Linked DNA regions of Homo sapiens. The protein of the gene in region 1 interacts with the protein of each later gene in a biochemical or structural test. Each region holds a gene or a part of one and is shown on either strand. Other genes may lie near its edges.

Evidence for each region. The genes of interacting proteins can lie anywhere in the genome.
Region 2: of the proteins of PTPRG (region 1) and TIE1, one has a biochemical effect on the other in vitro, tested with the Homo sapiens proteins (one large-scale study listed by IntAct).

The regions. Positions count from the first base shown.
Region 1 is NC_000003.12:62,271,571-62,275,070, reverse strand, and holds part of PTPRG (receptor-type tyrosine-protein phosphatase gamma isoform 1 precursor), read right to left. Parts: intron 2,126-3,500; coding exon 1,990-2,125; intron 1,374-1,989; coding exon 1,227-1,373; intron 1-1,226.
Region 2 is NC_000001.11:43,310,073-43,314,481, reverse strand, and holds part of TIE1 (tyrosine-protein kinase receptor Tie-1 isoform 1 precursor), read right to left. Parts: intron 2,812-4,409; coding exon 2,653-2,811; intron 2,489-2,652; coding exon 2,351-2,488; intron 2,178-2,350; coding exon 1,881-2,177; intron 1,348-1,880; coding exon 1,057-1,347; intron 705-1,056; coding exon 514-704; intron 100-513; coding exon of another isoform or gene 16-99; exon of another isoform or gene 1-15. UniProt on the Homo sapiens protein: Transmembrane tyrosine-protein kinase that may modulate TEK/TIE2 activity and contribute to the regulation of angiogenesis.

The sequences.
Region 1 (3,500 bases):
GATGCTTTAGTAAAACTCATGGTCCCTGGATATAATTTTCATTTTCAAGTTTGATTCTTGTTTTTTTCTTCATCTTGAGCTCTAAAATGGTTAGTGCCTGTAAAAGAACCAACTACCTGGTCGCATTTCTTAAATGAAGTTTTAAAGTATGTATAAAAAAAAATTGAAGAAACGAAAAAGGCAGAATTTAAGAAATGTTGGTACTTAATATTTTGTAAGAACTCATGTTAAACATTTAAAATGATACACTGTGTCCTCATTATTAATTATCTCATGGTTTTATAGTAGAATGTTAATGGGGAGCTAAAAATTTTTAATTTTATGACTGAACTCAGTGAAATTAAACTATTTTTCATTTCATATCACTTGGTATAATTTGCTTGGCAGTCTCATTTCTTCAGCTGAGATTCAAATGAAAGTTTCAGTCTATGGAAAGTTTTACCATGAAAACTAAAACTGTAGATTCATCTCATTCTTTGAATCTTGATACAAAGGGAGAAACTATTTACATACAGAACAATGTGCAAAATAGAATTTAAAAGACAAAGATAAATAGGAAAGCACTTGGTAACTGGAGAGACAGGCGATGTTTGAAAGTTAGAAGCAATTTTGATTTATTATCAGATGACTGAGCCCTAATTATTTTAATAGTCCTTATAATCTCTCTTTTTCACCTTCACTTCAGTCAATTCCATATAAACCTTAACCGCTTTTAAGCTTCTTCATGTCCCTATCAAAGAAAAAGAACAACCATTTAGGAAAAGTTAACTTTTCTCTAGTATTGTTTAGTAATTCTTTTTAAATTCCTAAATTATCTTCTGAAATAGTTTTTGAAATAGGCATATTTTTAGGACAATATGTCTACAAGTCATCATTCTTAATAATTAAGGTAAGATAGATTAGTTCAGAAAAAATAGGACATTTTTTGGACTAAACGAGTTACTTTAAAGTACTATGTCATTATGGCCAGGGGCTGATGTTTATATTCAGATAAAGTCATAAATTGCTCAGAAGAAAATACAACACTGTATATCTACTTGAATACCAACAATTCATACATAGGTCAAAACCGTATTTTCTTTTTCATCACATTTAAGGAGTACAAGGAGTACAAATAGTAATCCATTTCGGTGTATACATTAATGCAAAGAAGACATAACCCCCAAACTCAAGGCATTTAAAACATTTTCTTGCTTTATGCCAAAGAAACTTTTTCAAAGCACTACCTTGAATTGCTTTTCCAGTCGTGTCTTTCCTCCTACTCCTGGTATAAGGATGCTGTTAACATAGCTGTGCAGCTGATTTGAAGATACTTCAGTCTCCTTTCCAAGAATGGCTTCCAACAAGGCATCATGGATGAAAATGTACTGCTCCTAAGAGGTACAATACATGGTAGTCACTGAGGGAGTGTTAAGGGTTAGCCACTCATTCATGAAGTGTACCTTAGTTTAATTCTGCTGCTAACAGGGACCTCCCAGTGATTTCCTTCAAGCACTTACAGCTAGGTGATTTGCTCCAATACTCACTTTATCAGTCTTAACTTATTTTACGGTAGAGACTGTGTTAAGTTTAGCTCTGTATTCTATACTGTGCCTGGATCACGGTATTCTATACTGTGCTTATTGCTTCAACTCAATAAGCAAACAAAAAATCGTGTTCAATGAAGGGTTTTAGAACCATCCTCTCCTATGTATTTCTCAGGCCAGACAACATGTTTAACTCCCCCTACCATCTAACACAGCTCTTGAAACAACTGTATCTCTTTCGTAAGTACTTGTGTAGTTATTTAGGAATCCAAATGTTAAGATCCATACAGAAATGGAAAACTGTGATCCGTAGAATAGGATCATTGTCAGAATATCTTCTAATACAAACCTGTAAATTACTGCAAGCCCTAAAAGAATGAATCTGTCTCTTCATTATCATTTAACAAATTTCAGTTACAGCATTTGCCAGAATGTCGTGAGGACGCTGGCAGCTACTCCTTACCTCAGTCTGGACGAGGTAGTTACGCTGTGTCCTGATATGCTTCAGGAATCCCAGGACGTTAACTGTGCTTTTGTCTTTTATCTGTTGCAGCATGCTGTCTATTACAATATAGGTGCCTGTTCTGCCCACACCAGCACTGTAAGAAATGAAGACACTCAACTGGCACTTTTGTTTTATCATACTGTTAACTTTGGATTCGAAAAATTCCAATCTAAACCCCATTTATTTTATTATTTTTCTGAGATGAGATGGAGTTTCACTCTGTTGCCCAGGCTGGAGTGCAGTGGCGCAATCTCGGTTCACTGCAACCTCCGCCTCCCAGTTCAAGCAATTCTCGAGCCTCAGCCTACCGAGTAGCTGGGATTACAGATGTGTACCACTACACCCGACTAATTTTTTATCTTTAGTAGAGGTTTCACCGTGTTGGCCAGACTGGTATCGAACTCCTGACCTCAGGTGATCTGCCCACTTTGGCCTCCCAAACTGCTGGAATTACATGTGTGAGCCACCACTCCCAGCCTAAACCCCACTTAGATAACCTTAGATGACGTACGTTATTCACTTAGCATTGCAACATAAATCACAGAACAAGCGACATGTATTTGAGTACCAAAGTTTAAAACAAACAAAAAAGAGGCAAGAATGCATTTTCAAATGAAACAGAATAAAAGCATTTTTAAACAACCAACTAAAGTCATTTACTGTGGCTGACAAAAAACAAGCTTTATACAAGGATTTCCCAGTGCTTTTGAAAAGGTATTTTATATGGAACATTTAAACTAAAAATTTAAAAATGAAATATTTTCATATATACTATAAATATTGTTATTTAGAAGAACCTTTCAGAAAAGCCATTTACAAAAACACAATCTCTATTCTAGTGTGGAAAGTTCTTGTGTTTAACGTCATATTTTTATTTATTAGGATCAGGCTACAATTTTCCTATAAACAATGGGGATTTTGTAATTTTTTCTTTTTTTTTTTGAGTCATGATCTTGCTCTATCATCACCCAGGCTGGAGTGCAGTTATGTGAACACAGCCCACTGCAGCCTTGACCTACTGGGTTCAAGGGATCCTTCTGTCTCAGCCTCCCATGTAGCTGGGACCACAGGCATGTGCCACCATGCTGGCTAATTTTTTTATTTTTAATTTTTGTAGAAATGGGGTGTCACTTTGTTGCCCAGGCTGGTCTCAAACTCCTGGGCTCAAGTGATCCACCCACCTCAGCCTCCCAAAGTGCTGGGATTACAGGAGTTGGCCTCCATGCCTGGCTGATATTATTAATAAGAAGATTTTATAAAAACTAGGGATTGATCTAGTTTTTTAAAAATCACAGAAGCAGCAGATGATTTCTTAATGTTACAGGAATAGAGCCTCTTTAAGACTATCATAGGTCTTATCCATCCCAGTTTCCAGTGGAAGATTCAGCTTCTAAGTGAAAGCAGTAGCAATCATTGTGGTCCAAGGTCACTGAGGCCTAAGTCCCCTGCCCCATCTATTTCACATGTTG
Region 2 (4,409 bases), on another chromosome or scaffold:
CACAGCATGACTGGCCTACTGGCAGGTGGCCACAGCAGGGCTAAGAACATCAGCCAAAGATGTGTGCAGACAGAGGCTGGCTCCCGAGCCCAGGAAGGCCTGCAAGGACAAAAGCCAGCATGAACCCCAAGTGCCCTTCCATTTGATCACCTTGCTATCTAGGCCTAGATAACCGCTAGGGAGAAATAAAAGAGGGGAGAGGAAAATCTCCAATTGACGGAGCCCAAAACTGGAATGTCCATTGTGAAATATGGTCATCACGGAATTCTTTTGAAATGGGAATATTAAATATTTCACCACTAATATAAATGGGCTCATGAGCTGAATTCAGTTTTAGAGAAATAAAGAAAATTATATTTTGTACCCTTGAACATTGTTGAGTGTAATCTTATACCTGCAACATAAACACACACACACACACACACACAAGGTGTACAAGGTATTGTGTGTACACAGGTAGAAACATAAACACGGGCTGCAAGCATGCACCCAGGGGCGGGGCGGGTCACTGACCGAGCCTGACTGGTAGGTGAAGGTGCGTCTCCGATGCAGGCAGCTTCTGCGGATGCACACCAGGGTTAAAAGGGCAGCCAGGATGGTGAGGCAGGTGGCAGACACGGAGCCCACCACCGCCAGGATCAGCTGCTGATCCAGGCCCTCTTCAGCTGCCCGGCTCTCTTGGACTGGGCCCTCAGCCTGCAGCCCTGGACACAGTGAGAGGGGCAGATTGTGGGGACACCTGGGTCAGGGAACCCAGAGGCCACCATGGGGTTACACAGAGGGAGAGGTGAAAGATCCCAGTGCCAGGACTGTCAGGAAATCACTTGGGCCACATGAAGGAAGGGATGAGGGGTGTCAGAGGGGCGACATGATTTTCCCAGCCCTGGGACAGTGGATCATGAGAATGGAAGGCTGAGTCCCCAGGACTGGGGCTGACTCTTTGTCAGGAGGGGCCTGGGATGCCCTAGCTCCACAGTAGGGGGTGATGTGGAAGGAGAGCGTGCTGAGCTCTCCCCGCTCAGAGCCCGGGGGGTCCTGTGGGCCCTGCCCTCTCACCGTTGCCCAGGGTGGACTCTTCTACTGTGTTGCTCCAGTCCCCGAGCCCCTGAATGCTGGCCCGCATGCGGAAGAGGTAGCGCGTGCTGGCGTTGAGGCCACGGATGATGGTGCTTGTCTCCTCAGGCCTGTCCACGTCTATCCACAGTGGGTCTCCTGCACCCCCAGCCACCTGCACCTCCACAACGTACTTGGATATTGGCCCAGGCAGAGCCTCCGGGTGCTTCCATGTCAGCTGGATCTCGGAGTCTGAGAGGGCCTGGGCGTGGAGGTGTCGGGGGGCTGGAGGCCCTGGGGAGATGGTGGGGGAAGGCAAGGCTCAGATAGGACCGGGCTATGTAGCTGTGGGGCTGGACACATCTGCTCTAGCTGTGCTCCCTCCTCTGTGGGTCCAAGCACAGGGGCCACCCTGCCAACTTCCTCCTCCCCACCAGACTGAATTCCTCTCCATTCCCCCAGGCCACTTTCACCCTCAAGCTTCTGCTTCTCCTTGTACTTCTTGTATCCCAAGTCCTCTCCACATCCGCCCATGCCCTGTGTTCCGCAAGTCTCATGCCCTCCCATGACCCTGGTTCTCGCCATGAACCCTGACCTCCCCATGCTCTCCCCACATGCTCCTGGTGATCTGTGTCCTCCTGGTACCCTGGATCTTCCCCAAGTCCCATGTCCCCGCTGGGGTCACGTCTGCCTAATACCCTATGTGTGTCCTGTGTCCTCTCCATGTCCATTAATCTCCTACAGCCTCCCGTGTCTCCTAGGTCTCATGTGTCCCTGTGTCCCACGTCCTCCCCCAACCCCCAGCTATCCTTGCGCCTTGCACATACCACTGGGGGGCAGAAGCACGTGTGCAGGGGGCGAGGCCGGGCCCAGGAGGGTGCAGTGGTAGAGCTGCACATCCAGCTGGTAGTGGGTGCCAGGCGTGAGTCCCGTCAGGAGGGCAGTGCGGGCCTGGGGGGATGAGACGTTCTCCCGCCGCTCCTGCCCCCGTGTCCCGTCCCACAGGCGCAGCAGGAAACCGTCGCCCACCAGTGGCCCGGGCACCAAGGGCAAGGACCAGCTCACTCGCAGCCGGTCAGTGCCTTCCACATGCCAGCCCTCCAACCACGGCTGCAACAAAGGCTCTGGGGCCAGAGGTCAGGGGTCAGAACTGTCCAGTAGGTACTTGGGGCTGGACAGGACAATGATCCCCAGTGAACAAGGAAGAACAACCTCCAGTGGGAAAGGCAGGGGTCCCTGGGGTCGACGGGAAAGTAACCCTTGGGGGGACAGGAAGGGATGACTCTTGGCCTCTCACCAGGACAGTCTGTGGTCATGAGGGTGGGAGGCCCCCAGGCCCCCTCTCCTCCTTCCCCTGGCCGGCTCAGCTGCACACGAACACTGTATCCTGTCTTTGGCCTCAGGTTCATTAACGTCACGTTCTCACTGGGGTCCACTGGGCGTGGGGTGTAAAGCACACATTATTCAGCCCCCACCTCTTCTAGAAGCTGCCATGCTCCCTTCAGCCCCCTCGCACCATTTGCCCTCCCTCTCCTGCTCACTGTATCCCTTCACTATTACCCAACACCTCTGTCCTGCCCCAGCTCTCTCCCTACTCACCCACAATGGTCGACCAGTCCATGGTACTGTCCTGGGGCCGGTAGTGCAGGCGGACAGTGGAGATGGGTCCATCCCCAGAGAACGAGACCAGCGGGGAGACCACAAGCTGGCGGCTCTGCTTGGTCAGGAGCCGAGGTGCAGCCAGGGGCACGGGGGGCACTGCCAGGAGACTCAGGGTAAGGCATGGGCACACAGCCTATCCAGTCCACTTCTGCATCTTTGTTTCAAGCTGGGGACCCTCTGGGCTTGAGGGACACCAAGTTCAACAGATGACCATAGTGGCCAGGGCCCAGGGAGGACAGAGTTCAGGCCCCTGGGTAGCTTGGGGCACAAGGATTAAGCAATAAAGGCATGAGGGTGTCCCAAAAGATGGTAGATGAGGAAGTGACATGGCCAGACATGGTTTGGGGGTGCACTCTTCCCATGCAGTGTGGGGGTAGACAGAAGGGGCCGAAACCCAGGTCAGGGAGACTACCTGGGCATCATCCTGCTCTCTGCCCCTGCCCTCATTCACCACTCTCTTATTAAAAAAAAAAAATGGCACTGGCACTGAAGCACCTGCTCCCCGCCACACGCTTCATAGCATGACCTCTAATTCTCACAGCCACCTTTCTGTCAGGGCACATTACCCTGCATTATGAAAACACTGAGACTCAGAGACACCGAATAACTTGCCTAAGGACACACAACTAGAAGGAGATACAGCCATGTGTTGAACTAGGTCTGTCTGCGCAGGCCGCCTCAGATCTATCCATTCTACTCCAAAACAGCCTTCTTGTTCCTGCCCCACTTCCTCACCCCATGATCGCTGCTCCTATTCTGGCCTCAACTTTTTCTCTCCAGATTATTGCATTAGTGCTTTTAACAGGTTCCCTTGACTCTTACAAATGTTTACCAGATTGGCTTTTTGAGAGGAAAGGAAGGAAGGAAAGAGGGAGGGAGCGAGGGAGGAAAAGGATGCCGCGCTGTAAGCTGAGGGAGTGTCAGGCAGCAATGAGCATGTCAGGAGGGCAGTGCTGATTTGCGGGGAGATGAAGGTCCATTTTGGGTGCAGAGAAGCCCTTGGTGCCTTTGGCTCACGCAGGGGATTAGATGTCCAGGAAGTGGCTGGATATAAAATGGGCCTCCGAATCATACAGCAGCTACTTTCCACACCAACTTCAAAACCAGACTTCCAGAGTAGATGCCCCACTTCATGGAGTCCCCACCAAATGATCTGGAGTCAGAAGAGGGGTCCTGGCTGCAGATCATATGTGAGAGCTGCCAGAGAACTATCAAAATCTAGGGACTAGGTGACATTTTAAATAATAACAATAATTATCGACATACATTGAGCACACACCCTGTATCGGGCACTGTGCTAAATGCTTAAATACATCATCAAATTTAATCTTTGTAACAACCCCATCAAGTGCTAGCTATCCCCATTTCACAAAGAGAGAAACAAAGTAAGAGAGGTTAAGTAGTTTCCTTAAGGTGATGGGGCAAGGAATTTGTGGAGAGAGGATTCAAGCCCAGGTTGTCTGGCTCCTAAGCCTGGGCACAGTGAGAAGAGAAAGGCGGAAGGTGAGGCTTGATGGCAGAGAGTCATGCATAGTCACGGGATAGGGAGATGGCGAGGACCTGGGAGGCAGAGTGTGGCAACGAGAAAGCAGAAGGTGAGAGAGGGGGCTTACATGGGGTGGCAGGAGCAGAGGGACAGCAGGGTCAGGGGGTGGCAGGGGTGTGAATGGTTAAGACTTAGGGTGCTGGAGAAG